Regions from separate parts of the Homo sapiens genome. Here regions 1, 2, 3, 4, 6 and 7 are each linked to region 5. The links come from fine-mapping of genetic effects on gene expression. A gene starts in region 5. Each other region holds a variant in brackets. All regions are shown on one strand. Distances are from middle to middle. Region 1 has its middle 9.5 kb from the start of CRHR2. Region 2 has its middle 19 kb from the start of MTURN. Region 3 overlaps GARS1 (glycyl-tRNA synthetase 1). Region 4 overlaps GARS1 (glycyl-tRNA synthetase 1). Region 5 holds the start of GARS1-DT (GARS1 divergent transcript). Region 6 has its middle 13 kb from the start of GGCT. Region 7 has its middle 2.5 kb from the start of GARS1.

Region 1 (4,332 bases), 110 kb before region 5:
AAACATTTATTGAGCACCTGCTGTGTGCCAGGCTCTGAACTGGGGACTGGGGACACAGATGTGGACCCTGTGCTCCCACAGCCTACAGTCAGTCTCATGGGCTGGGGTGTGCATGGTGGAGAGCTCTCTGCCCTAGAACAGCCAAGAGCTAATCAGCACAGGTGTCCAAGACGTTCCCCTCAGAAGAAAGAAAAATGGAAACAGGAAAACATTCCATTTCTTCTCTACACTCTTACACACCTCTGACACCAAAAGTGTGGATTTTCTGCCCCAAGCAATTCTCCACTTCTCTGGGGACCCCAACTGGGTGTCCTCCAATTCAATTCAATTCTGATGCTATCTTCCTGGAGTTGGCATCAGCCTCCACAGGTAAAGCCTCAGTCCCACAAGACTGCCCCCAATTCAGATGCCAGTCGCAAGACAGGGCTTCTCATTCTCCCAACCGACAGGCTATATAAATCAAGAGTTCCCATGACCCTCTCTTTGGGTTCAATAGTGTGCTATAACATTTTGCAAAACTCAAGGAAACATTTCTATTTACAGGTTTATTTTAAAGTCTATCACAAAGGATATAGCTGAACAGCCAGATGGAGAGGCACACAGGCCAAGCTGTGGGGAGGGCGCAGAGCACCGTGCCCTCACTGGATGCCACCCTCCCCGCACCACCAGGTGGTCACCAACCAGAAGCCCCCAATCCCACCTTTGAGGGGTTTCACGGAGGCTCCATTACAGAGGCATATTAACCCAATCTCCAGCCCGTCTCCCTTCCCCAAGGTGTAGGAAGGTGCTGAAAGCTCCAACCTTCTAACCATGGCTTGGTCTCTCTGGTAACCAGCTGCATTTGGCAGCCCACCAAGAGTCACCTCATTAGAACTAACGACACTCCTGTCACCCAGGAAATTCCAAAGGTTTTAGGGATTCTGTGTCAGGAACTGGGGGCTAAGACCTAATATTTATAATTCCTCATCTCTCTTGTGCAAGGTCCTGCCCACTGGCTGGGTCTGCCTCCCGTGACCCAGGTGTCTGCCTCCAAGGCCCCTGTTCCTCTGTGGCAAGAGAGGGGCTTCTCACCTGAGCGGCCTCCTGAGCCCCACAGCCACCCAGTCTGGGGCTGGGGCCCTCTCAGCATCCGTGACCCACAGGTCTTCACTTCCTCACCCAGGATCAGCTCTTCCCATGGGAACCTGACCAAGCCATAACCTACCAACTGACTGGGCTTGAATCTTGCCTCTGCCCCTTACCTGAAGTGGGACCTTTGGTGGGTGACTTCGCTTCCCTGGGCCTCAGCAGCCTCATCTGTGAAATGGGGTTATTTGCAGCTACCTCAGAGACTGCCGTGAGGATTCAATCCGCTGTCTTCTGTAGGGCATTTAGAGGCAGGTCTAGCACTAGAGTAAGTGCTGACTTCACGTGAAAGAAGCCTCCCCTTCCTGCCTGTCTCCCCTCTTCTTCTCTTGGCACCTCCATACCAGATGGTGCAGTTTCCTGTGTGGGCCCTGGGCTCGCCTGCCTCTGAGGGTTTGCTTTCTCAGCTTCTACCTGGGTCACTTTCTCCTCTTCTTACTGCTGTTCCTATGGCCCAAGTCCTTCCATCCTTTTAGATTCCGCTCCAATGTCCAGTTCGCCGAACGGCCTTCGGTTTCCTCAATGAGCATTCACTGAGCACCGCTGAGGGGCGAGCTCAGTGAGGGAGATGGAGGCTGCACCTTCAGGGGCCCATTGTCCGAGGGAAAGCTGCTGAGGGCAAACGGAGTCCCACACTGACTGGAGAGCTGGGGAAGGGGGGCACAGGGTTTCCAGGAAGCTTTTCTGGGCAGGAAGAGCTTGAGCTGGGCCTTGGGAGTCCCGATGAGGGGACTCGACCTCCCATCACTGAGCTCTCTAACTAGCCCCCTCCTAAAGTCCTTGCCAAGAGTCACCATTCAGCGTGCGCATTCTACGTGCCAGGCTCTTGACCTACAGTAATTTGTTGAATGCACACAAAATCCTGTGGGATTTGTATTATCCCCATTTTAAAGATGAGGAGATCAAGGCTCAGAGAACTTAAGTGGCTTGCCAAGGCCACACAGCTAAGCCCAGCATCCCCAGAACTCTGCACACTGGGATGTGTGCACTCTACCCACTCTGACAGCTCTTCTCAAGTCCTTGGAATGGGATTATCCAAGATATGTCTGTCCCTGACTTTCCTGGACCATGTGTTTTCTGAGGACAGCAGCCTCTCTTTCCTCCTCCTCCCTGCCCACCCATCACCACCACCACTAGGGGCTCTGCCCAAAATTGACACCTGCATGGTAGATTACGACTTCGGACTGAGTCAAATCCACCCAAACAAGCCCCTTGAAGAGAATGAGTATCTTTGGCTGTGTCAGCTTTTGGGGCCAGCAGAGAAGTTATAGGAGATGAAGCCAGGATCTGGGATTACTCCAAAAATTACTTCTGATATGCCTGTACCAAATTTTGCCCAGACCCAAAGAGCAAGCATCAGTTGCAGAGTATGGTAACCCTGTGCCCACTCCCCACAAAGTGCTTGCTCAGCCAGAAGATGGCCACAGCCTGAGACCACAGAATCCAAGGCAAGGACCATCCCACATTGCCTGAGTCCTGGGGGAGGATGCCCTGACCCCATCATGGGTTCAAAGCA[T/C]GTGTCAGAAACCCCGGTAAAGTCAAACAGGAGATCACCTCAGTGATGGGGCTACAAATGTCACAGCTCAGGGGCTTTGAGAGAAGGCACTAACATCTGAGATGGAATGGCTGCATCTGCCTAAGGGCGCACCGTGGACACTGCATGCCTCTGGGTTGCCCGTACCCTGACCTCCAGAGGCTGGGATTCACTGGGAACCCTCCCACAGAGGGCATTACTAGCTGCTTCTCAAACAAGGGCGATGGGCGCCATAAAGAGGGTGATGGGTCAGACCTAGAGCCCTCACTGTCCCCAGACCCAGCCAAAAGTATGGCCTGAGAATTCTTCCTGGAAGGTCTCAGTGTCTGGAGTGTTCCCTCCCCTCCCCAGCCCCCCAACCCCTGGCAGTGGCTCACGGGGTCAGCAAGGTCTTCCTGATGCCCGAGAAGCTGGAGCTGAGGAACTCTCAGCAGCTCCCTTGATATGTGGACAGCAAGACCATGGCCCCCAGTGTTTGTCCTGCAGGCCAAGAGGCCAGAACTCCTGGCTGACAGCTCAGGAGGCCCCCACAGTGCCGAGACACACACACAACACACACACCTGCTCCCCTGCATTTCCCTCTCTACCTCACTTCGTGGGGTGGGAGTTTGGCAGAACACAGGTGCAGTGAGTGCCTCCAAGTGGTGTCTGCCTCACCCTAGGCTTCCGGGAGGGGTGCAGGGGGCAGCACTCTCCTGTCTGAGCAGGTGGGGTCATTCATTAGAAGCTCCAGGCTGACGTGGTGAGGGCTGAGCATGCAGCTTCCAGTCCCAGCACAGGAAATGGACTGAGCCCAATGTGGAGAACGTGATGTTTGAGGGCTTTTGGGCTCTGGCCCCTGGGGACATCCTGGGGCAAACATTGACCCAGCTGCCAGGAAGAGTACATCTGACAGGCAGCAGGAAGAGAAGGGGCTGCACACTGATGGAGCAGTGTCTTCTGGAATCCCAGAATCAGGAATCTCAGGGTTGGGAGGGGCACAAAAGTCACACACGTGTGTGCATGTACTCACACACACACACGCTGACCATAGAGCAAGAAAAGGAGTGGTCTTGGGAGGAATGGGGCCAAGCGTTAGAATTTAGAGTGAATTGCTCTCGTTCAGTCATACACCATGCATTTTCCAGCCTCTCTGCCTTTGCACATGCTGTGCTCTCTAACTAGAATGCCCTTCCTGGCCTGATCAGCTTGGCAAGCTCCTACTCACCCTTCAAAACCCACATTAGCATGACCTCTTCTGTGATGCTACCCCTGCCCTCCTCAGTAAATCGTACATGCCGTAAAACTGTACATCCTATCCATCTTTCCCACCAGAAGATGGTCCCTTCACGGGTGCACATGCCCACATCTACTTTATCCGTGCACATCCAGCACCCACTCTGATGATTTTTTAGGAGACGGGATCCTGGGTGCTTTTCTATCTTTTGGATGGAATTGCCATTATTGCAACAATCACATATCTTCCCTAGTGAGTGCCTAAGCTGGCCCTATGGTCCCTTCTTTTGTCCCTACTCATCTTTCTGGGTGCCCCAAAATGCTACCTCTCCCAATAAGCCTTCCCTGTCTTCCTGAATCCAGGTTAGGCACTTCTCTCACGTATTAACCTAATGCTCTTCGTTGCAAGTGCCTGCTTACCTGTGTGACAGGGAAACAAAGTTAAATCATGCATTTGC
Region 2 (4,332 bases), 460 kb after region 5:
TCCTGGCCCAGGAGAGGCATTTAGTCCAGGCTGATCCCCTGGAGAGAGGCGTCACCCAGATGTGATGCATCCTGTCTCATGCTGGGTCATCATGTCCTGCAGGCCACTCTGCACCCGCCTGATTCTGAGTGACAGCCCTCCTGGGCCACCATCAGACATTTGTGTGTCCCTGTTAGAAATGAATCCACGTCTCAGTTTTTAAATTTTTTAAAAAATAAAAATATGAATAAAGTCTTGGCAATCTTTAATCTACAGGAAGTAGAGTTGTGTAGTTATACTTCTGTTTCTAATATCTTGTTGGCAACATAAGCTTTGTGCCTTCATTTTTTTAGTGTGCACACTAAACTTTTGAAACTTAAAATTATTTTTCTCATAAATTCTGGCAGTTGTAAATCAAAACTGTTGTTTTTTAAAGATTTTAATTTTTTTCTGGAGGGGGGTCTTGCTCTGTCACACAGGCTGGATGGAGTACAGTGGCATGATCATGGCTCACTGCAGCCTTGAACTCCTGGGCTCAAGTGACCCTCTCGCCTCAGCCTCCTGAGTATCTGGGACTACAGGTGTGTGCCAACATGCCTGGCTAATTTTTTTATTTTAGTGGAGATAAGGTCTCACTATGTTGCCCAGGCTGGTCTCAAATTCCTGAGCTAAAGCAATCCTCCCACCTCAGCCTCCCCAAGTGCTAGGCTTACAGGCAGGAACCATCGTGCCTGGCCCTAAATTTAATTTTTAATAAATTACATTTTAAGGCTATTATTTCTACTACAAATTTTAAGAAACTAACTTGGAACTAATTTAAGTCTCAAGAACCTAACTTGGAACTCAAATTCATTTGGCCAAGACATTGTATAGTGCTAACTTAAGTGGGAAGGGCCATGGGGTAACTTCTAGGAAATGCACACACACATATAATTTCATTGTATGGCATGAGTTTGAATCGATTTCTCAATTACTGTGAGCTGAGAACCCCAGTCTCCCAAAAATGCTTTCTATCCTTGACCCTGCCTGCCTCTCACAATTTCCAGGCTGTCTCCTTAATAACGTTCAATCTGCCTTCCACAGTCATTACGTCAACTGGGCACAGATGCTGGAAGGCAGACGGAAAGGCGGTGACAAAGTTAGACCTACATTTGCAAGACCAAGTGAAACACACACCCACTCTCCTGAAGCCAAACTGCTTTTGGAAGGCGGGCAGGGGAGTGCCATTCCCTCTAGCATACTTGTCATTCCCAGCCTAGGTTTCAGATCCTTTTTATACACTGGCCTGTGGAGAGACTTGCTGCTAAATTCTGTTATTTCACAGCCCATCTCTAGCAACTGTGTTGGGGAACGACTTCAGACATTCCAGGTTTTGCTCAGAGAGCAATTTTCAACAAGAAAGCCAGAATGGGGGAGTAGCTAAGATTTAGTTGCAGCAAATTGGAGACCGGAAATATAAAGTTATTCAGAACAGTCAATGAAAATCATTTATATGGGAGAGAAACAACATGATCTTGCTTTAAATGTAAGGCATCTATCAGCGGCACAATGTTAATTAGGATTCTAGGGCTCTTAGTGCAGCTATTCCCTTTTTTATTTCTAGGTTGCTAGGTGCAGAAGAGTAGATTTGCAGAACAGCTAATCAAATATATGCAAGAAGATGCCCCTCATTTATCCTTAAGCTTCTAAGGCAGAAGTTTTTCTTCAGTTGTTTGTTCTTTAATGAATTTTAATGATGTAAGAAAAATACAATACACTATTAGGTGAAAAATCGCACATGTAAACAGATATTCACACATGAATCAAGTTATATAGTACATATATACATACACACATATGTGTATGTATATATGTATACATGTATGAATACATACATGTATACATACATACATGTATGCATGTATACGTGTACATGTATACGCATACATGTATACGTATATACATATGTATACATGTATACGTGTATGTATGCGTATGTATACATATGTATACACATGTATACGTGTATGTATGCGTATGTATACATATGTATACACATGTATACGTGTATGTATGCGTATGTATACGTATGTATGCGTATGTATACATGTATACGTATGCATACGTATGTATGCGTATGCGCACATGTATGTATACGTATGTATGCGTATGTATGCGTATGTATGCGTATGCATACATGCATGCATGCACATGTATGCATGCATGTATGCGTATGTGTGCATGTATACATGTATGTACACGCACGCATGCATGTATACATGCATGTATACGCATGTATGCGTGCCTACATGTATGTGCACGTATGTATGCATACGTGTATACATGTATGTGCACGCATGTATACATGCATGCGTGTATACATGTATGTGCACGTATGTATGCATGCATACGTGTATACATGTATGTGCACGTATGTATACATGTATACGTGTATGCATGCATGCGCGTATGTATACATGTATACGTGTATGCATGTATGTGCGTATGTATACACGTATACATGTATGTGTACATGTGTGCATGTATGTGTACATGTATGTGTGCATGTATAAATGTATGTATACATGTCTACATGTATACGTGCATGTATACATATGTCTACATGTATACGTGCATGTGTACAT[ATG/G]TCTACATGTATACGTGTATGTGTACATATGTATACATATGTCTACATACACGTATACATGTGTGTATACATATGCATACATATATACATGTATATATGTATATCTAAACACATATAATACAAAAAGGAGAAAACATTTAAAACATGGCCATTTTTAGGTAGTGGTACAATGAGTAGTTTGCATTTTCCTCCTAACACTTCTATGGATGTCCCCAATTTTTAAATCAGGCTTACCAAGAGAAAATAATTAACATCATACTTTTTTTAAAGGGTGGAATGAGACTCCTAACTTTCTTAAAAGAAGATGTGGGGAAACAGTCTGAAAACTCTCCTGCCATACTGCCTTAAAATGCTTGACAAAATACAGCAAAAATTATTTTAAATGCATGAATGAACTGGCAACAGAGAAAGGAAGTCTCCAGGTGTGTCAGTAACAAAGAGAGAAGTGAGTGGTAAGGATGTGGGATGCTGCCACAGCTGGGCTTAGTTAAAAAACTGCAGCAGTTTTTAAAAGGCTACACCCACACTGAAAAGAGTAGATTAGGAGAACCATCGATGCACTGGCACGGAGAGACAAAAAAGAATTTATATGCCTCTGTCTGGATGGGGAAAAATGTCCTCTGAGAAATGAATTCTCAGGGTCTTTTTCTACCTCAAATTTGGAGGTTCAAATTTGCAGATGGTCCAGGAACCATGATGATAAATGACTCCCAAAATGATAAACAGCCAAAAAAGAGTTCCACATCTGGTGATCTTTCTGTGGCAAATGCAAAACTGCTCTTGAGGGACACATTTACAACCCAGGCCACGGGGATTCTCACAGAAAAACAGCCTTCTTTAAAGATAAGCTCACAAACACAAATAATGAAATGCAGGAGGACAAAATCCTGCTGACTTAAAAGTCAGCAGACACAATAAATAGCACTAAAAGATACCCTAAAACTTCATATAATAGAATGACAATTGGAAAGGGAATGTAAAATAAACATGCTTAAAATTATTAAAGCCCTAAAAGATGTAATTAAAACACCAAGAACGGAACAAACCTCATGAGAGGCACTGTTGCACGGTAGCTAAGAGCGCAGAAACTGAAGCTAAAGTGCTGGGTTCAAATCTCGTCACTATCACCTACCACCACCTGGGTGACCTTGGGTGTGTCACTTAATATTTCTGTGCCTCAAGTCCCTCATCTGTAAAGTAGGTATACTAATGGTATCTATATCAATGGGTTATTGTAAGGATTAAGTGTGTTAATATATGTAAAGTGATTAGAAGAGTACACATATGCTTGGCACAGAGTAAGTTTTAGCTACTATTGTAACAAAAAAAAGAAAAGTAGGGCAGGTGTGTCTCACTCCTGTAATCCCAGCACTTTGGGGGACTGAGGTGGGCAGATAACATGAGGTCAGGAGTTCAAGACCAGCCTGGCCAACATGGCAAAACCCTGTCTCTATTAAAAATACAAAAATTAGCCAGTCATGGTGGTGTGCACCTGTAATCTCAGCTACTGGGGAGGGTGAGGCAGGATAATCACTTGAACCTGGGAGGCAGAGGTTGCAGTGAGCTGAGATTGTGCCCCTGCATTCCAGCCTGGGCATTGGTGAGACTCTGTCTCAAAAAAAAAAAAAAAAAGTAATATTTTGAACAGAAACAAATTAGAATGTGTAGAAATGAGAACTAGCTACTAAAAGTTTGTAAGCTGAAAAGAAGTTGAAGGGAGAATTAGT
Region 3 (4,332 bases), 34 kb before region 5:
TAATTTTTAAATTTTATTTTTTAATAGTGTCTCTTATTTGGTCCTGCTGCACCTATGTTTTAGTTGTCTTTCAACAACTAGGAAACATCTTCTGTGCCCATATAAATGTGAGAGAAACAAACATGGTGTTTGTCCTCACATAGCTTATAATTGGGCTGACAGCAACTGAACATCTACAATGTGGGACAGGATAAATTACGGGCCCTGCCTAGAATCTCCAAAATGCTGCTGCCAAAGTCTTTCCATCTGTTCTGTCACAAATCTCAGCACTGTGTCTATAGTTAATGATTCACTGTATACCTGAAATCCGCTCAAAGAGTAGATGTTAAGTAGATCTCACCACTAAAAAAAAAAAAAGTAACTATGTGAGGTGATAATTATGTTAATTAGCTTGACTGTGGTAATCATTTCACAATGTATAAGCATATCAAAGCACCACACTGTGTGACTTGAAATCATACAAATCATACAAAATTTACTCATCAATAATCTCAGCTCATAGATAGGAGGCAGGAATCATCAGAATTCTGAGTAACTGTATCTCAGTTCAGCAACTGTACCTGAAACTGTAGAGAACTAAAATACACACAGGCTAGGAAGACAGATAAGTCAATCAAAATAAAATAAAATTTTAGAAAAATCTTCATATGAACAATCTAATACCTCTAAACTAACAAAAGGACAAAAGGAAATACAGCTATGCAAAGATTAATCACCAGAGAACTCTGCCATCAAGAAGAATCAGAACACTAAATAAACCAATCCTAGTCCTACCATGGAACAAAAGCCAGGAGGATGCTGACTCATGAAAAAACTAGTGGACTTCTGGTCAGGAACTTGCAAGGGACATAACAAAACTAGCCAGAATTCAGACATGACACTTTGAAGTGAAAATGACCAAAGAATCCACTGTTGAGAAGCCCCAGAGCCTTTCTACCAGTTAACCCCTGGGATCACTCCCAAGTTCCAAGCTGGTTTCCCTACTCACCACTTTTTTACTGCACAGGCCCCAGACACTGCCTTACTTCTCAGTCCTTCTCAATAATCTTCCCATAGCTACTCTGTGTAAACCCTCTTCGTAACACTGGCTTCAGACAAGGTCAGCCTTACGCAGCTTCCTCAGTTTGGGAAGGCATACTTGCTAGATATTGAAACGGTGAAAAACAAAAAAACAAAAACACTCAGACACTGGGAAATAAAACAAAGACTCAAATCTGACAAATTTGTCATTGCCATCATACCTGGCTAAAGTTTCTGATGACCTCCTCTTTTTACATGAAAGCTCAGAGGGGTCATTCCCCCAACTTTCTCTAAGTTGGGCACATTCTTTCCTCTGTAAGTCCCTCCTTCCTAAACCGTAAACCTGTAGGGCCTAGAGATACAGTTTGCGCAGAACATAGGCATCTTCTCCCAGATGGCATCATGGGAACTAACAAGATGAGGCAGGTGCTGTGGATGCTTTGATCCAGAGTCAGTGACTGGGCTATGTTATGACCCAAGTCTGTAATTACAGTGAGTAAGAAGAGAAGACAGGAAATGGGTGGGCGCTGGGGCTGGGAAAACACTTTGGGGCCTTAGAAAGTTATGTTTAGCTACACCTCGTATTTTATATGGAATGTATTACTCTAAGAGATGATACCAGGAATAACGTATAGAAATCACAAAAAACTTAAGTCATAAACAGCTGAGTCATAATAAATTTCTAAAGAAATATAGAACTCACCAGCCCCAATATGCCTTCCCACACATCCCTGGATAGATCAGACAAAAGTAGGCTATTTGAATAGAGGCCAAGTGAGTGATGAGGGTAAGCTTGCTTGCTGGCCTTTCTGTCATATAGGCCCCCCAAATACCTGGACGGAGGTTGTTTCCAGAACTCCAGTTGGTTACTGATACATCCTCACCCCAACTTCAGCAATGTTGTCTGCCCTAGATATCTAGAACAATCCTCCTGCCACAACTTTCACCCTACCCCCACCCGACCCCACCCTTTTATACACATCACCATTGCCAGTATTGCCTTGGTTTAGACAATCAAGATATTACCATCCTCAAAATATACGATGAACAAGGAAAAAGGTAATTTTGGAGCAGGTGAGACTCTTAAGACAGTCTCCACCCTCCTTCCTTTCCCTTCAAGTTCACTTTTGTCACTCAAAACTGCCTGTCATCCTGGAGATTACATTTAGAGATTCCAAATGTAAAACATGATTTTTGGAGAAAACAAAAATAAATTCATAATCAGGATTATGAAGCAGAATTG[C/T]TTCAAAACAGCAAGCTTTCATTTTCAATGCAATGCCAAGGTCATTCACTAATTTGTAAGAGTAACCTGAGCAGTACCTGACTCTGATCAGTCCAGATCGAGGGGAGATCTCATTTCTAAAAGAATTTCCAATCTGGGCAGCAGCAAAAGGCAACTTTCCTTGGTTGAACTCCAAAAGTCGTTTGAAATTCAAGAAAATCCCCTGTGCAGTTTCTGGTCTCAAGTACCTATAAATTTAAGTAAGTCAGTCTGTTACAAAGAAAGAAATTATGTTTTCCAACAATCCTGAAATTCTAGATACAAATCCTAAAAGTCCTAAATATACCATTTTCACAACAAAGTTGAACAGGCCCTAAAATGAAGTTTTAGAAATATTTTCCTCGGTAGCAAACATTTTCATAGCACGTATTAGAAAATGTATTAAGTAATTAGTGTGGCAGTACTACTTTGGCAATGCCATTTCATTTAATTACACCAGTGAGTCAAAACCCCACTTCTCAAAAAGCAGAAATAAAAATAAATTTAAAAACACCACCTCAGGCCGCGCGCAGTCGCTCACACCTGTAATCCCAGCACTTTGGGAGGCTGAAGTGGGCGGATCACCTGAGGTTGGGAGTTCGAGATCAGCCTGACCAACATGGAGAAACCCTGTCTCTACTAAAAACACAAAATTAGCCAGGCGTGGTGGCACATGCCTGTAATCCCAGCTACTCAGGAGGCTGAGGCAAGAGAATCGCTTGAACCTGGGAGGCAGAGGTTGCAGTGAGCCGAGATCACGCCATTGCACTCCAGCCTGGGCAACAAGAGCGAAACTCCATCTCAAAACAAACAAACAAAAAACACCACCTCTCCCATAGTGCCCCTTAAACCCCTGATGTCTTCTAAGTCATCATGTACATGGAGGCAGATGACAATCTTAGGTCCTTTGGAAAATAATACCCATGCCTATGTTTAGCCCTGTTAACCCACATATTAAAACTTAACTGAGGGGCTAAAAAGAAATCAGTATAGGCTCACATTTAACATCAGCACTCACTTATCACTATCACCTCACCAAGCCAGGTAATTTTCAATGTTTTTCAAATCATTTTATTATCTGCAGTATTTTATATTTTCAACCAGAGGCTTCCGCATTTCTCTGTATTTTAAAGATATAGTCAAGCAAATACACTACTATAACCACTGCCCTCTCAATTTCCTAGAAGATATTCTGTGCAAAACATCCACTAAGGAAACGCTCCCAATGGCCTACTTCAGAATAAGTATTTTACTAAAATAACTTTAAAACCAAGGGCTAAAAACCCTAAAATTGTACCCTCTTCTTACTTAACAGACCAACTCTTTTGATTTTTATGGCCCTTTCCAGATTTCATCCAAATGTAAGTAAAGTTTATACATATATTTACAGTTAGTATGTATAAAATCATGTATTACCTATTTTATACTTCCCATTTTCTAAATAATGGCACAAATTTCTCACATTTAATAGTGACAGAATATTATCCCAAACTAATCCACTTTACCATAATTTGTTTAACCACTCTCAAATTACTGAATAGGTTATTTCTACTTTCAATTTATATACTTCTTCTAAGTATAATTTCCTTTCCTTCTGAATTATTTCCTTAGATCAATTCCCAGAAATGGAATGTCTGGGTCACAGGTTATGTCTCATTTTATGACTCTGTACATATGGCCAAAATGAAAGGCTTGCCACTGGCCTCTTTCCATGAAATATTCCAAATCAACCTGATGTCTCATTAGAATAATTAACTGCAACACATTTTGTCACAATTAATTTTTCTTATTCTTCAGTCCCTACTCTGGGAAACACGATCTATCTAGCTCATGTAGGAAAAACTTACTCTCTTACCCTATCATAGAAAAATATCTAAAGCTATGAAATGGAACACTGGCTAAGTCTGTTAAACAGTGGACAAGGAATCAGAAGATAAAGATTCCAATTCTGAATCATACTGTAAACTAACCAGATATTCTTTATCCATGAAAACCACATCTTTCAAATCAACAGGCTATACCTATGCTGTCCAATATGGTAGGACACCAGG
Region 4 (4,332 bases), 29 kb before region 5:
CCACTGCTACAATCACACAAAATTCAGGAACATCACAATTAACCTAACCTTCAGGACACCCACATTAAAACCATAACCAATTTATTCACTTTCCATTTATCAAGAGAGAAAAAAATATCCTTCTGGGACCTAAAACTCATATAGTCACTGTTTCAAAGTGAAAGATAAAGCAAAATACCTCTTATTCAATTATAATAGTTATTGGTTGGCAAGAATCTGAAATTACCTAAATAAGTTTTCAAAGCTGAATTTTACTACTCTGAACATATTTAAGGTGCATTTCTGCATTTCTCTGTATTTTAAAGATCCAGTCAAGCAAATATACTATTAATAGCCACCACCCTCTCCTCAATGGAGTAATTAAATGTGCATTGAACTTTCCTTTCCCATTAGATATTAAGCGCCTAGAAGACAGAAGCTGTATCTTATTCACCTCAGCATTTTCCAGTGTATTGCACATTCTATACATTGATCATCAGTGCCAAATCCTGTAAAATGATGTATGCCCTCCAATTTAAGAATTTCAAGTGACTATGACAAACCATCTAATAGTAAGCAGTATTTAAAACTTAAAAGTTTCCTAACAGAAACAAAATAATTCAGTAAATCAATTAATGGCCATAATAACTGAAGCTTCGAGTTCAGAAAGACCTTGGCGTATCTCCCAACTCTACACCACTTATGGGTTGTGTGACTAAAGATTAAGTTCTTACCTAACCTCTCTAAGAACAGGGGAGAACAGCTTCTACCTTGCTATGCAGGAATATGATGAAGATTAAACAAAACATGTAAAGTATTTAGCACAGGCAGGACCTGGTACATAATAACTACTCAATAAAGAGCAATTATATTTGCTACCCTCATAAATCCAATGGTATTTCCACTCCATAAAAAGGCAACCCACTCACACTAACAACATGTTCCAGATTTGAATGTGCAATTTAAAATATTAAGCCTTCTAGACTCTATTTCTACAGAATTTCTAGGAGGAATCCACAAAATAACATTATACAATTACCCAAGAGGCTGGATCAATGAGGAAACTGTTCCAGTGAACTTCAAGACACGGGTACCATAAATATAAGCTGGTCCTACTAGAGTAGAAAGTTAAAGAGCCTGAGGAACATCTATTTCCCAGGTAATTCAAGAATATATAGTGTTTTCCAATAAAAGGCATAATTTAAAAAGAAATCAGGAGGAAAAAGATTCTGCCAATACAGATAGAAAGCAAAACCCCTGGGAAAGGGAATCTGGCAATATCTAACATTACTATATTTGTATTTATCCTTTGTCCCATTTCTAGGCATCTATCCCAAAGACACAATAGCAAAAACATGAAAAGATATAAGCACAAGATTATTCAATGCAGCATTATCTGTAATGTTAAAGATGGGAAATAACCTAAATGTCCAGCAGTGGACAACTGGTTATGTAAAATATATCCACACAATGCCCAATTATGTAGCTATAAAATGGAAGGAGGCAATCTCTATATACTATGAGGGACCAATCTCTGAAATATTTTGTTATGTGAAGAAAACCACAATGGAGAAAAGTGTGTATGGAATGCAACCATTTATCTAGAAAGGAGGGCATACAAATATCTATATGTCTTTGTTTATATTCTATTTTTTTAAAAAAGGAAGTTGTTTTAAGTTAAAAACTGCTCAGGAAGCAGGGAAGCAGAAGGACGGAAGGTAAAGGGAAGAGAAAGATAGTAGACTAAATATACCTTGTTTTTTAGATTTGCCTTTAGAGGTATAAAAAATGCTTTATATGATTATAAAACAAATTTTAACTTTTTTATTATACTTTAAGTTCTAGTGTACATGTGCACAACATGCAGGTTTGATACATAAGTATACATGTGCCATGTTGGTTTGCTGCACCCATCAACTCGTCATTTACATTAGGTATTTCTCCTAATGCTATCCCTCCCCCAGCCTCCCACCCCCCGACAGGCCCAGGTGTATGATGTTCCCCACCCTGTGTCCATGTGTTCTCATTGTTCAATTCCCACCTATGAGTGAGAACATGCAGTGTTTGGTTTTCTGTCCTTGTCAGAGTTTGCTGAGAATAATTGTTTCCAGCTTCATCCATGTCCCTACAAAGGACATGAACTCATCCTTTTTTATGAATGCATAGTATTCCATGGTATATATGTGCCACATTTTCTTAATCCAGTCTATCATTGATGGAC[A/G]TTTGGGTTGGTTCCAAGTCTTTGCTATTGTGCTATATGATTATAAAACAAATTTTTAAAAAGGAAACCCTGAATACTGAAAATAAAATGAAATATATGGACTAACTGCATATCTAGCTGATGGCATAACCACACAGAGAGAATGACTCCAAGTGACTTTAAATACAGTTATCAGACTGTAAGACTACACAGTGCTGGCATATCCCTAAAGAAAAGAACAATAAAAGTGTTTTTAACTGTTTTCAACATTCATATTGCTGATGGTGGTGTTGGTATTGTCATTCTGAGACTGTTAACGTATACAGTGGGAGATAAGGCACATCAATCATTATGTTTTGTTGCTGAGAACTGCGATTTTTGGTAAGGGTAAAGGAGAGAGATTTAAGATTAATATAGTAAAAACCCTATAAACCTAACTTTAAGTTAACTATTAAGTATCTATATTAACTCATGAAAAGTTTATCTTTTAAAAAATATCAACTTCCTAGCTCAGATCACTGACAAGGTTTATAATTAGTGATCAATACCATCCCCACTAATAAGTACCAAGTACCAGGGCTCCTTGGAGAAATGTCTGATTCCAAGTCTGGGACAGGAAATGTATAAGATGAGATGGCAATATCTTGTCATATTAAAGGAAGTTTTCAGAGACTACAAGGGCTGTGTCAAAAGGACTCAGCAGAGAACTCCTAGTCACCAAAGACTGGACAATTTAACCACCAATAAGATAACTGCAACTGACTGAATATCAAATATTTGAATCTAAAGTTCACAACAGTAGGAGGAAAAAACGAAAAGGCAGGCAGGAACTCGTGCATTTCTGAAGGATGTTAGGGAACCAACTAATGGAAAACAGGTTTAAAAAGACAAGGGGTGGGAGAATGGATGAAGCACTTATTCTCACCTTTCTTTACAAATCGTGTCTCAGTTAAATCAAATAGTTGATAGAAAGTTTTTTCATATAGAAATAGTCTAGCTAAAAAAAAAAAAAAAAAAGAATAACAATGACAAAAATCACCATTTTGAAATCCCCTCATCAGTTAATGCATCTAAACAATGGACATCAATGGCCACAGCCCACAGAAGAGCTAACCAGGTACTATGTAGCTCTGGACAGAAGTCCATAACACCACTTAACCAAATGTCTCGCCAAAAATACCTGGTCAAGCTTCTAAATCTAATAGAGAAAAAGATGAACATGTGTAACCTCACTACAATAACGTAATTAGCCAAATCCAGACAGTAGAAAACAGTAAGGAACAAATGACTCAGCTTCTTGAAAAAAATTTTAATGAAAATGCGGGGAGGGAAAAGGGAATGAAGGAAGGCCATACAGATTGGAAGAGATATAAGAAACATATCAACCTATCACAAAGTATAGACTTTATCTGGATCCCAATTCAAATTTTAAAAACTGGAAACATTTAAGACAGCCTAGAAAACATGAACACTGATCAAATATTTGATGATATTAAATTATTAACATTTCCCAAGGTAAGAGGATTGAAAAGGATTTTTTAAATCCTTTATTTTTAAAGGATTTTTCTCTTTTAGAGATAGATAATGAAAAATTTACAGGTATAATAAAATAATGTTTGAGATCTGCTTCAAAAAAATTCAGGCTGGGCACCATGGCTCACATGTGTAATCCTAGCACTTTGGGAGGCCCAGACAGGAGGATTCTTGAGCTCAGGAGGTCCTGGCTGCAGTGAGCCATGTTCGTGCCCCTCCACTCCAGCCTGGGCTACAGAGTGGGGCTCTGTCCCCACCCTACCACACACAAAGAATTAGGGGAAAGAAGTCAGGAAAGTGAGAGGGGAATAGATACAAAAAAATCTAACAGTGAAGCAGGGTGATAGGTACATAATTGTTTATTATGTTTTTATTTAACATATAAAATTTTGTATGTTTTGAATTTTTCATAAACAAGTTAAAAATGGTTTTTAAAACTGGAACATCCAGAGATGGGCCACAAAAACAGACAGAGAAGAGAAACAAAAGAATTCGTTCTGAGCTGTTAAATCCACATAATAGGAGTAGAGGTCTTCCTACCACAGAAGGTGAATCAGGGCCTTTTAAAGAAACAATGATGCTTCATAAAGCTGAAAAGGAGTCAGACACTAAGGTGCAGA
Region 5 (4,332 bases):
TGCAGTGGTACAATCTCAGCTCACTGCAAACTCCGCCTCCTGGGTTCAAGCAACTCTCTGCCTCAGCCTCCCGAGTAGCTGGGATTACAGGCGTCTGCCACCACGCCTGGCTAATTTTTGTATTTTTAGTAGAGACGGGGTTTCACCATCTTGGCCAGGCTGGTCTTGAACCTGTGACCATGTGAGCCACCTGCCTTGGCCTCCCAAAGTGCTAAGATTCTTCAGTATATAAATGGTTTTTAGAAAATACCAAAACCCAATTCCTAGAAAGACCATTAAAAATAATTTCCCTTTAATTATAGACAACTTGATTATCTAAAAGCTTTTTTTTCCATAAATCCGCTTATGATTTACTCCAGACCATTCATGACATGCTTGTGAGGTAGAAGAATAGGGTCTGGAGGCAGGGAATCTAAGGCCAATTTGCCCTGACTTCCTAGAACTGAATCACAAGGAAAACCCCACCTCTCCACACCCAAGTAACAAAAGTATCAGAGGCTACTGTCTTTGCACTGCCTCACAGATAAAAATGGAAAGTACCTCTGATTGGTCCCCTCCCACAACCAATCAGACTTGTCGTGGGCCACTCCTTCACTTACATAGGGTATAACCAAGTAACCAATGGAAAACTTCTAGAGGGTATTTAAACTCCAGGAAATTCTGTAACCGGCCTCTTGAGCTCCTTGCTGGAGCCCAATCCCAGTCTGTGGAGTGTACTTTCATTTAAATAAATCTGTGCGTTCTTTGCTTCATTCTTTCATTGCTTGGTTTGTGCATTTTGTCCAGTTCCTTGTTCAAAATGCCAAGAACCTGGATGACTCATAGTCAAGACCCTCCACCAGTAACATATATTGGCGAGCCAGCCAGGAGGTAAGCCCAAAGTTTGGGATTTATTTTTCTTCTCTTGATTTCCCTTTTCCTCTCTGCTCCTTACAGGGGAACTCTTTTCTCTGTCTCTTTTTCCCTTTCCAGCTTGGAACCCTCGGTGGACAGTGCCTAAGCACAGAGGCAACCACAGGTTTCTAACAGGGCCACTCTCTGGTGAAACTGAAAGGTTTCTGTGTGAAAGTGCCTGACCACCACTGCCCAATTCAGGTGAGGGACCTGAGTCCTTTTCCTTTTTTCAGTCTTTCAGTGGCCGTTTCCTAGTAGCTTCTTGGTAATTGAGGGAAACTGGCCGGGACCACTCTCTACTGTTACCTGAAGGCCAAGGAGTGAACCTGGGATAGCTCTCCTGCCCAGAAGGCGGAAGGACTCTTTTGTATCTTTTTGAGTTATAGTCCCTGATCCCTACCTGTGATGCAATTGGCAGCAGAAGCTCGTCCAGGGTGAACTCACACACATTTCAGGCGACTTAAACCCTCTTTCTTAAGCTAAATTCTCCCATAAAGTTGGCCTGTAAGGACAAAAGATAATATCTCTTAGATATTTTGACCTCCCTTCTCCTACTGAATCTATTGACTGGCTGAGGACCTTTGGGACCCACAAGCTTTAGAACACATTCTACATCTTGGACCTCCACTTAAGGGAGCTTGGTGGTCATTGCTTTGGCATCAGTTTGCTTGCCCTGAACCCCGTAGAAATTCTATATATCTTTTATATACCCAATATAAACCCAATCTTTTATATAACCTCTGCACCATTTCTTCATGGGGAATATCCCACTAGCCTTGGTACCGTTAACTCTGCAGTGTTCGGGAACCTCCTTAGTCTTGCAAGGAATGCAGGAAGATATGGCCTATCTAAATTGGTAGGAAGCTAGAAGCTGAGACCTTCATCCAGGGACAAGAGAAAAGCTCATATTAGGCCATTGCCTCTGGAGGGAAAACATACAAAGCAACACTGGTGCCCACCTAAGGTCAGAGATGTCTGACACTTTTAGACTGGACCTCAAAGGGGGATGCCTAGGGGATCCAACTCCAGACCTCAGCCTCTCCAAAGGGGATGCCCTAGGCAAAGGTTCTCAGGTCTAGTACTAAGGCCTCCTTAGAATTGTCTCTCTCTTGCAGACCACTACAGGAAACACTCCATTTATTCCACCTGACTTCCCACTTGGCTGCATCCTCAACCATTGAAATGAATTTGACCCTGATAATCTAAGGAGGAAACATTTGATATTCTTTTGCAATAATACTTGGCCCCAGTATTGTTTGGAATCTGGAGTTTGCTGTTGAATGGGAAAGCAGGATGACGTTGCATGTATCCAGGCTTTGGTGCTGCTGTCCTAAGAAGGGTCAGGCCTAGTCAGCATATGGTGCTCTCCTTTGGTGCTATTTGGCTCCAGTGTCTTTGGAGTCTGAGGAGGTTTGGCCTTTAAAAATCAAACTGCCACCGGAACTGCTTTAAAAATGTTTGGTTCACAGCCTTCACTGGATTACCTATTGGAGCAAACAAAGTGTAACCATGTAAAACCTGTGAGCTTGTATTGATATCTCATGGCTAGAGTTCCAAGGTAAAAGCTATTGGATCTTCGTTTGTGTGTGTGTATACATGTCTAGATGTGTTTATTTGTATGTACACTTATTGTTATATGTTGTGTCAACCAAATCAGCTTATAAATAAAAAAGCACTCATAAATTAAATAAATAAGTCCAAGCAATTTTCAAGTTCATGTGACTTAAGTAAATCTTCATTAAATAGCTGGCTTTAAAATTATTGGTAAAATGAAAATAGAAATATCTTCAGAATTGTCAGCATACATTTTTGTCTGGGTTTTATATTTGTCTTTGCTAGAAATGTTGAAGTGTCAGCATTTGGCATAGAAGATTATAAAGCTATTAACCCAGCCAAAACAAAATGGCCTTAGTTTATGTGGCTTCTTTGACAAATGAGACTAATTTAATATTGTTAGCTAAATCTTCTGGGTTATTGGCAAAAACACCTATGTATTTAACTGTGAGGTTCTTATTTAGGTGAACACATAATGTTCATTGGCTATTAAAAATGGTTAACAAATAAATAACTAACTTTAAATGATGGTGTCTAATATCTCAGTTTTCAGAAGTAATCTAGATAAACTGTTAAAAATGAAAGACTTAAGTACATGTAAATGGGATGAATGATTAGGTAAATTTTGTGTAATTTAAAATCTTAAAAGTATTTTTGATGCCCATTGGATATCTCAGTCATTTCCAATTAAGAAAGGGTTATGATAGGGAGGAATATGTTTCCAAAAATTGTGGAATTATTCTCATCTATAAAATGCTAATATCTGATAGTTTAGGATTTTTTGCTTCCTAAGGTTTCACTAAAATTTAAGGTTACTAAGATGATATGGTTTGGCTTTGCATCCCCACCCAAATCTCTTCTTATAACTCCCATAATTACCGTGTGTTGTGGGGAGGGATCCAGTGGGTGAGAGATGATTGAATTATGCTGTTCTCATGATAGCGAATGGGTCTCATGAGATCTGATGGTTTTGAAAATGGGAGTTGCCCTGCACAAGCTCTCCTTTTGCCTGCTGCCATCCACATAAGATGTGATTTGCTCTTCCTTGCCTTCCACCATGATTGTGAGGCCTTCCCAGCATGTGGAAATGTAAGTCCAATAAACCTCTTTCTTTTGTAAATTGCCCAGTCTTAAGTATGTCTTTATCAGCAGCATGAAAACAGACTAATACATAAGGATATGAATTATAGTTAATATATAATTCTGTATACAAAATATGCCAAAAAATGTGTTATTGGTGAGAAAGAATTATTTTGTGTAGTTTGGAGGTTATCTGAAAGTTAATTCAAATTATGGACTTTAAAAAAAAGAGTTATTTATGAAACAAGGTAGTAAGGAACCAGTAAGTAGGGGAGAGATGTGAAGAAAGTTATATATATGAAGATATGTTTTTGTGAGGGAAGATTGTAGAGATGGTGGCTTTGTAGGAGAAAAGATCTTGTACGATAAATTCTTGTCCTAACGTAAAATGACTGGTTGTTTAAAAAGAAAGATGTTTAGGAAAACTCAGAAAGTCCAAGCATTTTGTAGATGGTCTGGGTAAGTTATGAAAAGAATTCATGTAAGAAAAGGATAATGTACCTTTGGTAAAAAGCATGGGAATGTGGATTTCTTGCCTAAGTTTAGAGGGTGAAAGGATGGTTTTAAGTGAGATAGGAATAATCTAAAAGGTTTGAACAAGTTGTGGAAGGCTTATGAAAAATTAATTGTAAAAGAGATTCTGTGTGTGAACATATTGGCTAAAGTTAAAGGGGAAGACTGGCAATTAGACTTCACCCATATGCCAGTGTGCAAAGTATACAAGTTTTTGGTAGTAGTAATAGATACTTTTACTGGCTGGGTTGAAGCTTGCTCTATGAGAACAAAGAAGGCTCATGAAGTTGC
Region 6 (4,332 bases), 60 kb after region 5:
AGTGATAGGTGGTCAAAGTTAGATGCAAAATAACTCTACAAAAGAGATTATTTTTTACAAAGTAGATGACATTAATTCAAGAAAAAAAGTATTTTAAGTTTCTTCCTGAAAGAACCTTTTAATTTCTTGTATTTTCTAGGCCAGGTGGAAGATATTCTTCCTAAAAAATGGTCTTCAGATTACCTCTAAACCTTCCTCTTTGACACCTGGCTGAGAACCCAGAAAACACCCCCTGTTCCATAGCAGACCAGTGTTTACTGTTATTTGCCTCTTTAGAGCAGTTCAGAGGACCATCAGCTACCATACCCACTAAACGAAAATGGCAAAAGGACTTGTAATGGCCAAATGCAGCAATATAATTTGTTATTATCAATTCACTAGTGATTTGAAATATTGAGAAAATTCCCAATTGAATGACAGCATGGAAAATCACATTACATCAGGGAATAGTATTTTCTAGGCCACCAGATTTCTCTAAATTGGAATTTGGAAATAAATTTTATTTGCAGCAAGAAACATGTATTAATACTGACACTTACTAAAATGTTTTAATGAGTTAGAGCAAGCATTTTGTGTCAAGATACTACTGGTCTAACAAGGCCTGCCACTATTATTGATGCCCATTATGTACTTTTCCGTGAAGTTGTCTAACCTGTTCTATTAAACCCGTAAACTGCTTTGACAATCGTAAAAGAGACAAAAAGGAACAAAGTAAGAATGATGGGAAATAGAAAGCCAAGGCACCCAATTTTCTTCTAGTTTAATCAATAATTTGGGGCTCTATCACATTTGCTCTCAGCCTTACAGTCTGATCCTTATTTTTTGCCAGGCTGCAACCCTCACTGCATTTAATAGAGGTTGATGGATATTTTTATAGCCCTGCAGTTTCAAACTGATTATCAGGTGTTTAACCAGCAAAGCCATGCAATATTTGTATAAATCAATCCTGTAATGAAAGGTTATCACCCACAAACCCAGTCAGTGTCAAACCAGAACAAGGTAAAGATTTGGAATGCTTCCCTTTCTGGATAACACACTATTGCTTATCTTCAATTTTCTGGATAATTTAGGATTTTATTGAATATGATTCTTCAAGAACTGAACGATCATCCTAAACAAATCAAAGTCACTGTATCATCACAGAGCAGCATTTCCCACACTCTCAGTAAAACGCTGTCTACATCAAAGGGGTTCTGTGACCCAGGAGGTTTTGGAAACTCAGGATTAAACAGAGCTCCACAGGTTCCCTTGCTACAGGCATTCTCAGCTGCCTTCATAAGGCGATGTGCATTGTGAATCTCTAAGTGGAAATATGGAATGCAGTGTTTTCCAGGTCACTGGACCACAGAAGCCTTGTTTGAGAATCACCTAGTGGCCCCAGTGGCCCACAGATCATATTTTGGGAAATGTTGCTATTTGAGTATAATTGTTATTCTTGAACACCCCAAATTGTTTTGGTGTGGGATTTTTTGTTTTGCTTTGTTTTTGTTTTTGTTTTGAGACAGGGTGTCACTCTATCACCCAGGCTGGAGTGCAGTGGTGCGATCACTGCTCACCACAGCCTCGATCACCTGGGCTCTGGTGATCCTCCTGTCTCAGCCTCCCAAGTAGCTGGAACTACAGGCATGCATTACCATGCCTGGTTCATTGTTTTGTATTTTTTGTAGAGACTGGGTTTTGCCATGTTGC[A/C]CAGGCTGGTCTTGAAGTCCTGAGCTCAAGCAATCCATTTGCCTGAGCCTCCCAAAGTGCTGGGGTTACCGGAGTGAGCCACTGCGCCTGGCTAGGTTTCTCATTTTTTTTTAAAGGTGAAATTCACATAACATAAAATTAACGATTTTAATGTGAACAATTCAGTGGCATGTAGTCCATTCACATTGTTGTGCATCCACCACTTCTATCTAGTATTAAAGCATTCCATCTCCCCAAAATAAAACTCTGTACCTGATGAGTAGTTAATTTCCTATTCCCTCTTTCCCCTAGCCCCTAGTAACTACCAATCAGCTTTCTATTCCTATGGGTCTACCTATTCTGCATATTTCATATAAATTTAATCAACCAGTATGTGACCTTTCATGTCTGGTTTCTTTCTAATAGCAGCATGCTTTTTAGTTTCATCTACATTGTGGCATACACCTGTGCTTCGATTCTCTTTATGGCTGCATGACGTTCCATTGTATGGATAGACCACATTTGTTTGTCCATTCACCCATTGACGGTCATTTGTTTTCACCTTTGGACCATTGTGAATAGTGCTGCTATGAAGACTCTTGTCCCAGTATTTTGTTTCCAATTTGTTTGGGGATACACCTAGGTGTGGAATTGCTGGGTTAGAGAATTCATCTTGCCACTACAATTTTGTGGCTTCCTAAGGCAAATTGAATAGTTCGTATGACTTAGCTAGCTTGAGACATCATTTTTAATACCTTTTGTTGTTGTTGTTGTTTTGTTTTGTTTTTTCAGAGATGGAGTCTCGTTCTGTCACCCAGGCTGGAGTGCAGTGGCGCAATCTCGGCTCGCTGCAAGCTCTGCCTCCCGGATTCCCGCCATTCTCCTGCCTCAGCCTCCCTAGTAGCTGGGACTACAGGCGCCCCCCACCATGCCCGGCTAATTTTTGATATTTTTAGTAGAGACAGGGTTTCACTGTGTTAGCCAGGATGGTCTCGATCTCCTGACCTCGTGATCCACCTGCCTCGGCCTCCCAAAGTGCTGGGATTACATGTGTGAGCCACCACACCCGGCCCCATTTTTAATACGTTTTTTAAAGATGCATATAAAATGCATTACCCTCTGGAAGATTCCAGTAACTTACTGAAGCAAGTTTCTCCTCTACATATACCTATTTCTGCCATGAGTAACTGTTCATTTTCAGTGAGTCATTTGAGTTTCTGTTATTCAGGTATACAGAGTTCCTGTTGTCTTTTTAGTCAACAAAGTTTAACAAAGACCATAATAAAGATGGCTTTCAGCAGCTCTGTTATTGGGAAGGGTTGTATTCATGTGAAGAAAGAAATTATTTTATTTTATTTTTAAGTTTTAGTAGAGGGGGGGTTTTGCTATGTTGGTTAGGCTGGTCTCGAACTCCCATCCTCAAGTGATCCACCTGCCTCGGTCTCTCAAAGTGCTGGGATTACGGGCATGAGCCACTGTGCCTGGACAGTAATAATATTTTTTAAAAGGCTGACATCAGCAGATCAGCTATTCTGGAAAGATTTTTAAACACTCAGAGGTTTTTTTGTGTTTGTTTGTTTTCTTTTCTTTTCTTTTTTAGAGGCAGGGTCTTGCTCTGTCGCCCAGGCTAAGGTGGAGTGGTGCAATCATAGCTCACTACAGCCTCAAACTCCTGGGCTCAAACAATCCTCACACCTTTCATACCTTAGGCCCCTGAGTAGCTGGGTGGGACTACAGGCATGCATCACCATGCTTGGCTAATTTTTAATTTTGTATAGGTGGGGTCTTGCCATTTGCCCAGGCTGGTGTCAAACTCCTCAAGTAATCCTTCTGCCTCGGCCTCCTAAAGTGCCAGGATTATAGGCCTGAGCCACTACACACAGCCCGGAGTTTTTAAAAAATACTCAATTAAAATGCTTCATTTAAGTGTATGTCTCTAAGAAAATTTAATAATTGATTAAATATTGTTGAATAGACTGAAAGCACAACATCCAAGCACATGAATTAAGCAAATAATGCAAGCATAGCTCCCACACTCCACAAATGTTTTCTAGTCATTCCAAAGCCATTCTTTTTAGAGGATCTTTAAGAAAATGCTTGGCTCTCATCCGATTATTATACAAGAGATTAAGAATTTACTGAGTTTACAGTTCTTTCTATGAAGGAAAGAATGAGGTCTACACCCAAAAGAAACATTGGGATTTTCATTTAAGTAAAGCTGTATTCTCATTTAAAATGGTACTAGTGCTCTTGTTGGCAACAGACACATGAAGCAAAATTTTCCTTTTACATTTGAATTTCAACTGCATTTAAAGTGTTATAAATACCATGACTACATAAGCTAAGGGAATGAATGTATTAACTCTGATGCAGTCTGTCAGGTTTTAACAGTAGTGAATCTTGGGATCGGTACATCTCATTCCAGTATAGCTATGGTAAATGACATAGAGATCGCTGAATTGTTGTATTTCCAGGACTTTTCAAAAGTGACTATTAAGGTTGGCTGTGGGATCTAGCAGGTTATTGTCCTAGAACACTTGTGGCCTTCTCCTAAAACAGACTGGGAAAATTCTGGTTCTTTATTCACTGACATCTCAAAGGGCAAAGAGGGAGGCACCATGACATTCTGCAGTTGCAGGCCTCTCAGGATGAGACTGTATTTTT
Region 7 (4,332 bases), 14 kb before region 5:
ATACGAGTGACACCCCGGCCGACCTACTTGAACGGACACTTCTGTTTCTGTTCTTTCGCGCCCTGCGCCTTAAAAGGGTCGCAAAACATCAAATCAGATAGGGATCTTAGACTTCTGTTGCTCAAGTGCAGATGTTCCCCAGATAAGGAAATAGGCCCAGAGAGGTTAATGATTTGCCCAGAGTCACACATTCTTGGTCCGCCGATGTCAAGACAAAAGCTGGCGAACGGGGGAGGAGGAGTGAGGGGATAGAGTCACCCCAGGCTTTCTGGAGAAGGTAAATTCCAATCTGCCCTTGCGGGGCGAGCAGGATTTGAACCGGCAGAGATGAGGAAAGGCAAGAGGTGCCTGATAAGTCTTTCTGCTTGGCATAGCCTCAGTCTATCTGCCTCCTGTGGTTAGGCCCCAGCTGACCAACCACCCAGAGATGGCTTCCCCCCGCCCCACACACCCAGTTCCTCCTGCCCAAAGGGTGGAGGGCCTAGAAAAGCTGGGTTCCCCCTCCAGGAAAGGAAGAGAAAAATGATGTGTTGGTTATAAAAACAGCATTGCGCACACCTGCAAAAATGGCTAAAATGAAAATGATGGAAAATGCCAAGTGACCCTCTGAGACTCCCCTACACTGCTCAGGGGAGTGTTAACTGGTGCAGCCAGCCACTTGGGAGCTCTTCGGCAGTATGCACGTACGTCTCCCTGTGACCCACAATCCCACCCCAGGAGTGTGCAGGAGTAGACGGGCTCAGTATAATGAAGTCTCCTTTCCTAATGGTGTGAAAGTCCATGTTATTTCTCTTCCCGTTCCAGTGTGCAGTTCTGGAGAAGTACTTACAATTCAACATGAGCAGGGTGGGTTGCTTAAGAACCTTCTGCAATATTGAACAATTATATTTTTAAACACTTTTATTTCAAGATTTGATATTAATTATAATTTATTTGGCTTTTATTTTACTAGGCAATTTTGAATTTATTTTAATATCTTTAAATGTGAAAAATCATTTTAAGTTTTACTTTTATTTTTATTTAGATTTTTATTAAAATGTTGAAATTCTATATCCTTTGAATAAAACTATTTTATTTCTAAAAAATTCCTTAGATCAATAATGTCTCATCCATTTTCATGTTAGGACAGTCCTGAAAGGACTCCAAATCCGTTCTTCCCTCCTCCCCGACCAATTCATCCTCCCCACTGCTGCTTCAGTCATTCTTTCTTTCTTTTTTCTTTTTCTTTTTTTTTCCAGACGGAGTCTCGCTCTTTCACCCAGGCTGGAGTGCAGTGGCGTGATCTTGGCTCACTGCAACCTCCGCCTCCCGGGTTCAGGCGATTCTCCTGCCTCAGCCTCCTGAGTAGCTGGGATTACAGGCGTGCGCCACCACACCCAGCTAATTTTTTTATTTTTAGTAGAGACGAGGTTTCACCATGTTGGTCATGCTGGTCTCGAACTCCTGACCTCGTGATCCGCCCGCCTCAGCCTTCCAAAGTGCTGGGATTACAGGTGTGAGCCACTGCACTCGGCCCAGTCATTATTTCTGAAAGGCAAATCTGACTGTGTCCCTTCTCTTCTCAGGACACTTCAGTAGGCTCTTCATGGCCCTTGGAAGAATTTCCCAAACAGTTTTCTTTTGAAAACTGTGTCTGCACAATAATGATAATAGTTTATGTTTGTTGAGCACTCACTATGTACCAGTTAGTTCTAATTTATCTCATGGAATTTATTCACCAATTTAGTGAGATAGGTTCTATAGTTATTCAGAATTTTCACATGTGGGATTCAAGGGACTGAGATATCAAACAGCTTGTCCATGGTCACACAACTAAGTGAGTGTTGGGCCAGAATGTGAGCTGGGGGCAGAGGCAGATTTTCTACATAGCTAATGAAGCTTCAAGTGAGTTTAGCCCCTTTCTCTGTTGGGCTCTTTAAGTGCCCTGCAAGAGGCCCTAGTATTGTGTATGTATGATCATATATTTTTCTTGCTTTATTAAAGTTCATTTCTTTGAGGGAAATAAATTTTGCATACATTAAAATGAACAAAAATGTATAGTTCAATGGGTTTCGACAAAGCAATATCCTTTTGTAACCCCAACACCAAGCAAGATAAAGAACATTTTCCCCTGACTCCACAAAGTTCCCTTGCATGTCATCCCGGTCATCCCACCCTCCACAACCAGGCGATCACTATTCTCATTTATTTTCCTCTTAGATCTAGACTGTTGTATAAATGAAATAATGTAATATGTACTCTGTGTCTGATGTCTTTAATTGACCATAATGTGTGAGAGATTAATCCATATTGTTTCACATATCAGAAACTTGCCCTTTTTTGCTCTGAAGTATCCCATTGTGTGAATATACTATAATTTATTAATTTATTCACTAGTTGATAGACATTTGGGTTGTTTCATATTGTAGACCATTATGAATAATGCTGCTGTGAACATTCTCATACATCTTTTTTTGTA[G/A]CTATATGTTTTCATTTCTCTTGGGTAAATATCTAGGTGCGGAATTACTGAGTCAAACAATAGATGCATATTTAATTTTATTAGATTGTCACAAGTTTTTCCAATGTGGTCGTATTATTTTATGTTCTTAAGAGCAATATATAAGAGTTCTAGTTGCTCCACATCCTTGTTAACATTTGATGTTGCCGGCCTTCCAGATTTTAGCTATTCTAATAGTTGTATCTCATTGTGACTTGTATGCATTTTCCTGGTGATTAATAGAGTTGATTGTGTTTTCATGTGCTTAGTGGTCATTTGTACCTCTTCTTTTGTGAAACATCCACATTTTTTGTCTTTGCTTTTTAATATTGAATTATAGGAGATTTAGATATGCTGGATACAGTCCTTTGCTAGGTACATGTTTCATAAATATTTTCTTCCAGTCTGTGGCTTGCCTGTTTGTTAATGATGGTTTTGATAAGCAGAAATTTTTAATTTTGATGAAGTCTAATTTATCAATTTGTTTTTTTTCTGGGTTCTAAAAAATCTTTGCCTACTCTCAGATATTCACCCATATTTTTGTCCAAAATTTTAGTAGTTTTATGTTTAGGTCTATGATGCATCTTGAATTAACTTTTGTGTATAGTTTTAGGTAAGAGTCAAAGTTCATTCTTCCCATATAGATATCCAGTTGCTACAGCATCATTTGTTGGAAAAAAGTAGGGCTTACAAAAAATTACTGCCATTGATCAGCTCTAGTGCCTTTGTCAAAAATAAGTTCACCATATAAGGTGGACCTATATCTGGGGTCTCTATTCTGTTCTAATGATCCATTTATCTATCAATCTTTATGCTAGTATCACACTTCCTTGATGACTATTGCTTGAGGATAATTCCTGAAGTCAAATAATGTATATTGTCTACCCTTTCTTCTTTTTCAAAATTGTTTTTCTATTCCAGGTTCTTTCTATTTCTATATAAATTTTAGAATTGACTTATCAACTTTGTAAAAATACCTGCTGGAATTGTGAACCTGTAGTTTAATTTGGGGAGAATTCATAGTTTAAAGCACTGAATGCATTTTGATAAATATATTCCTAAGTATTTTATTCTTTGAGTCTTGTGAATGTTATTTTATTTTCCATTGATTTGCTGTTAATGTAGAGAAATATAATTGATTTTGTATAGTGACATTGAGACTTTCACTTATTAGTGCTATTATTTGTTTTGTAGGGGCGGGGGTTGTAGATTCCTTAGGATTTTCTTTTTTTTTTGAGACGGAGTCTCGCTCTGTCGCCCAGGCCGGACTGCGGACTGCAGTGGCGCAATCTCGGCTCACTGCAAGCTCCGCTTCCCGGGTTCACGCCATTCTCCTGCCTCAGCCTCCCGAGTAGCTGGGACTACAGGCGCCCGCCACCGCGCCCGGCTAATTTTTTGTATTTTTAGTAGAGACGGGGTTTCACCTTGTTAGCCAGGATGGTCTCGATCTCCTGACCTCATGATCCACCCGCCTCGGCCTCCCAAAGTGCTGGGATTACAGGCGTGAGCCACCGCGCCCGGCCGATTCCTTAGGATTTTCTGTATTAATATGCATATACTTTGTAAATAGAATCAGTTTTACTTCTTTCTTTCCAATATTTATGCCTTTTTCTTTTACTTGTGTGGTTGCGTAGTCTAGGTCATCTTGCACAATATTGAATAGAAGCAGTGAATGAACATCTTGCCTTGTTCCTGATATTAGAGGGAAAAGTGTTCAATGTTTCTCCATTTAGTGTAATGCTAACAAATTCAACTTGGTTTTGTCTTTCTTATATTCTGCTGGATTTTATTTACTAACATCTTGATAAAGATTTTTGCCTGTATGTTCATGAAAAATGAACATACAGGCAATCAGT

What was found. PIP is the estimated chance that this variant, and not a neighbour inherited with it, causes the effect.
Region 1: its variant is fine-mapped to the expression of GARS1-DT in whole blood (TOPMed, PIP above 0.99).
Region 2: its variant is fine-mapped to the expression of GARS1-DT in left ventricle (GTEx, PIP 0.95).
Region 3: its variant is fine-mapped to the expression of GARS1-DT in whole blood (TOPMed, PIP above 0.99).
Region 4: its variant is fine-mapped to the expression of GARS1-DT in nasal epithelium (TOPMed, PIP 0.96).
Region 6: its variant is fine-mapped to the expression of GARS1-DT in whole blood (TOPMed, PIP above 0.99).
Region 7: its variant is fine-mapped to the expression of GARS1-DT in whole blood (TOPMed, PIP above 0.99).

What each region holds. Positions count from the first base shown.
Region 1 is chr7:30,689,771-30,694,102 of GRCh38, reverse strand. It overlaps a transcript of CRHR2 not described here. Among named protein-coding and RNA genes, the nearest start is that of CRHR2, 9.5 kb to the right of the region's middle. The variant T/C (reference allele first, on the strand shown) is at 2,642.
Region 2 is chr7:30,113,807-30,118,138 of GRCh38, reverse strand. It overlaps a transcript of PLEKHA8 not described here. Among named protein-coding and RNA genes, the nearest start is that of MTURN, 19 kb to the left of the region's middle. The variant ATG/G (reference allele first, on the strand shown) is at 2,604.
Region 3 is chr7:30,610,254-30,614,585 of GRCh38, reverse strand. It overlaps GARS1 (glycyl-tRNA synthetase 1), which reads right to left. Exons shown (of 17, transcript NM_002047.4): 8 at 2,341-2,490. Among named protein-coding and RNA genes, the nearest start is that of GARS1, 18 kb to the right of the region's middle. The variant C/T (reference allele first, on the strand shown) is at 2,264.
Region 4 is chr7:30,605,170-30,609,501 of GRCh38, reverse strand. All of the region lies in intron 6 of GARS1 (glycyl-tRNA synthetase 1), which reads right to left. Among named protein-coding and RNA genes, the nearest start is that of GARS1, 12 kb to the right of the region's middle. The variant A/G (reference allele first, on the strand shown) is at 2,201.
Region 5 is chr7:30,575,769-30,580,100 of GRCh38, reverse strand. GARS1-DT (GARS1 divergent transcript) reads left to right here and starts at 2,322. Exons shown (of 7, transcript NR_038889.1): 1 at 2,322-2,452; 2 at 3,391-3,537.
Region 6 is chr7:30,515,627-30,519,958 of GRCh38, reverse strand. No RefSeq gene overlaps it. Among named protein-coding and RNA genes, the nearest start is that of GGCT, 13 kb to the right of the region's middle. The variant A/C (reference allele first, on the strand shown) is at 1,690.
Region 7 is chr7:30,590,244-30,594,575 of GRCh38, reverse strand. No RefSeq gene overlaps it. Among named protein-coding and RNA genes, the nearest start is that of GARS1, 2.5 kb to the left of the region's middle. RefSeq lists an enhancer at 1-243. The variant G/A (reference allele first, on the strand shown) is at 2,459.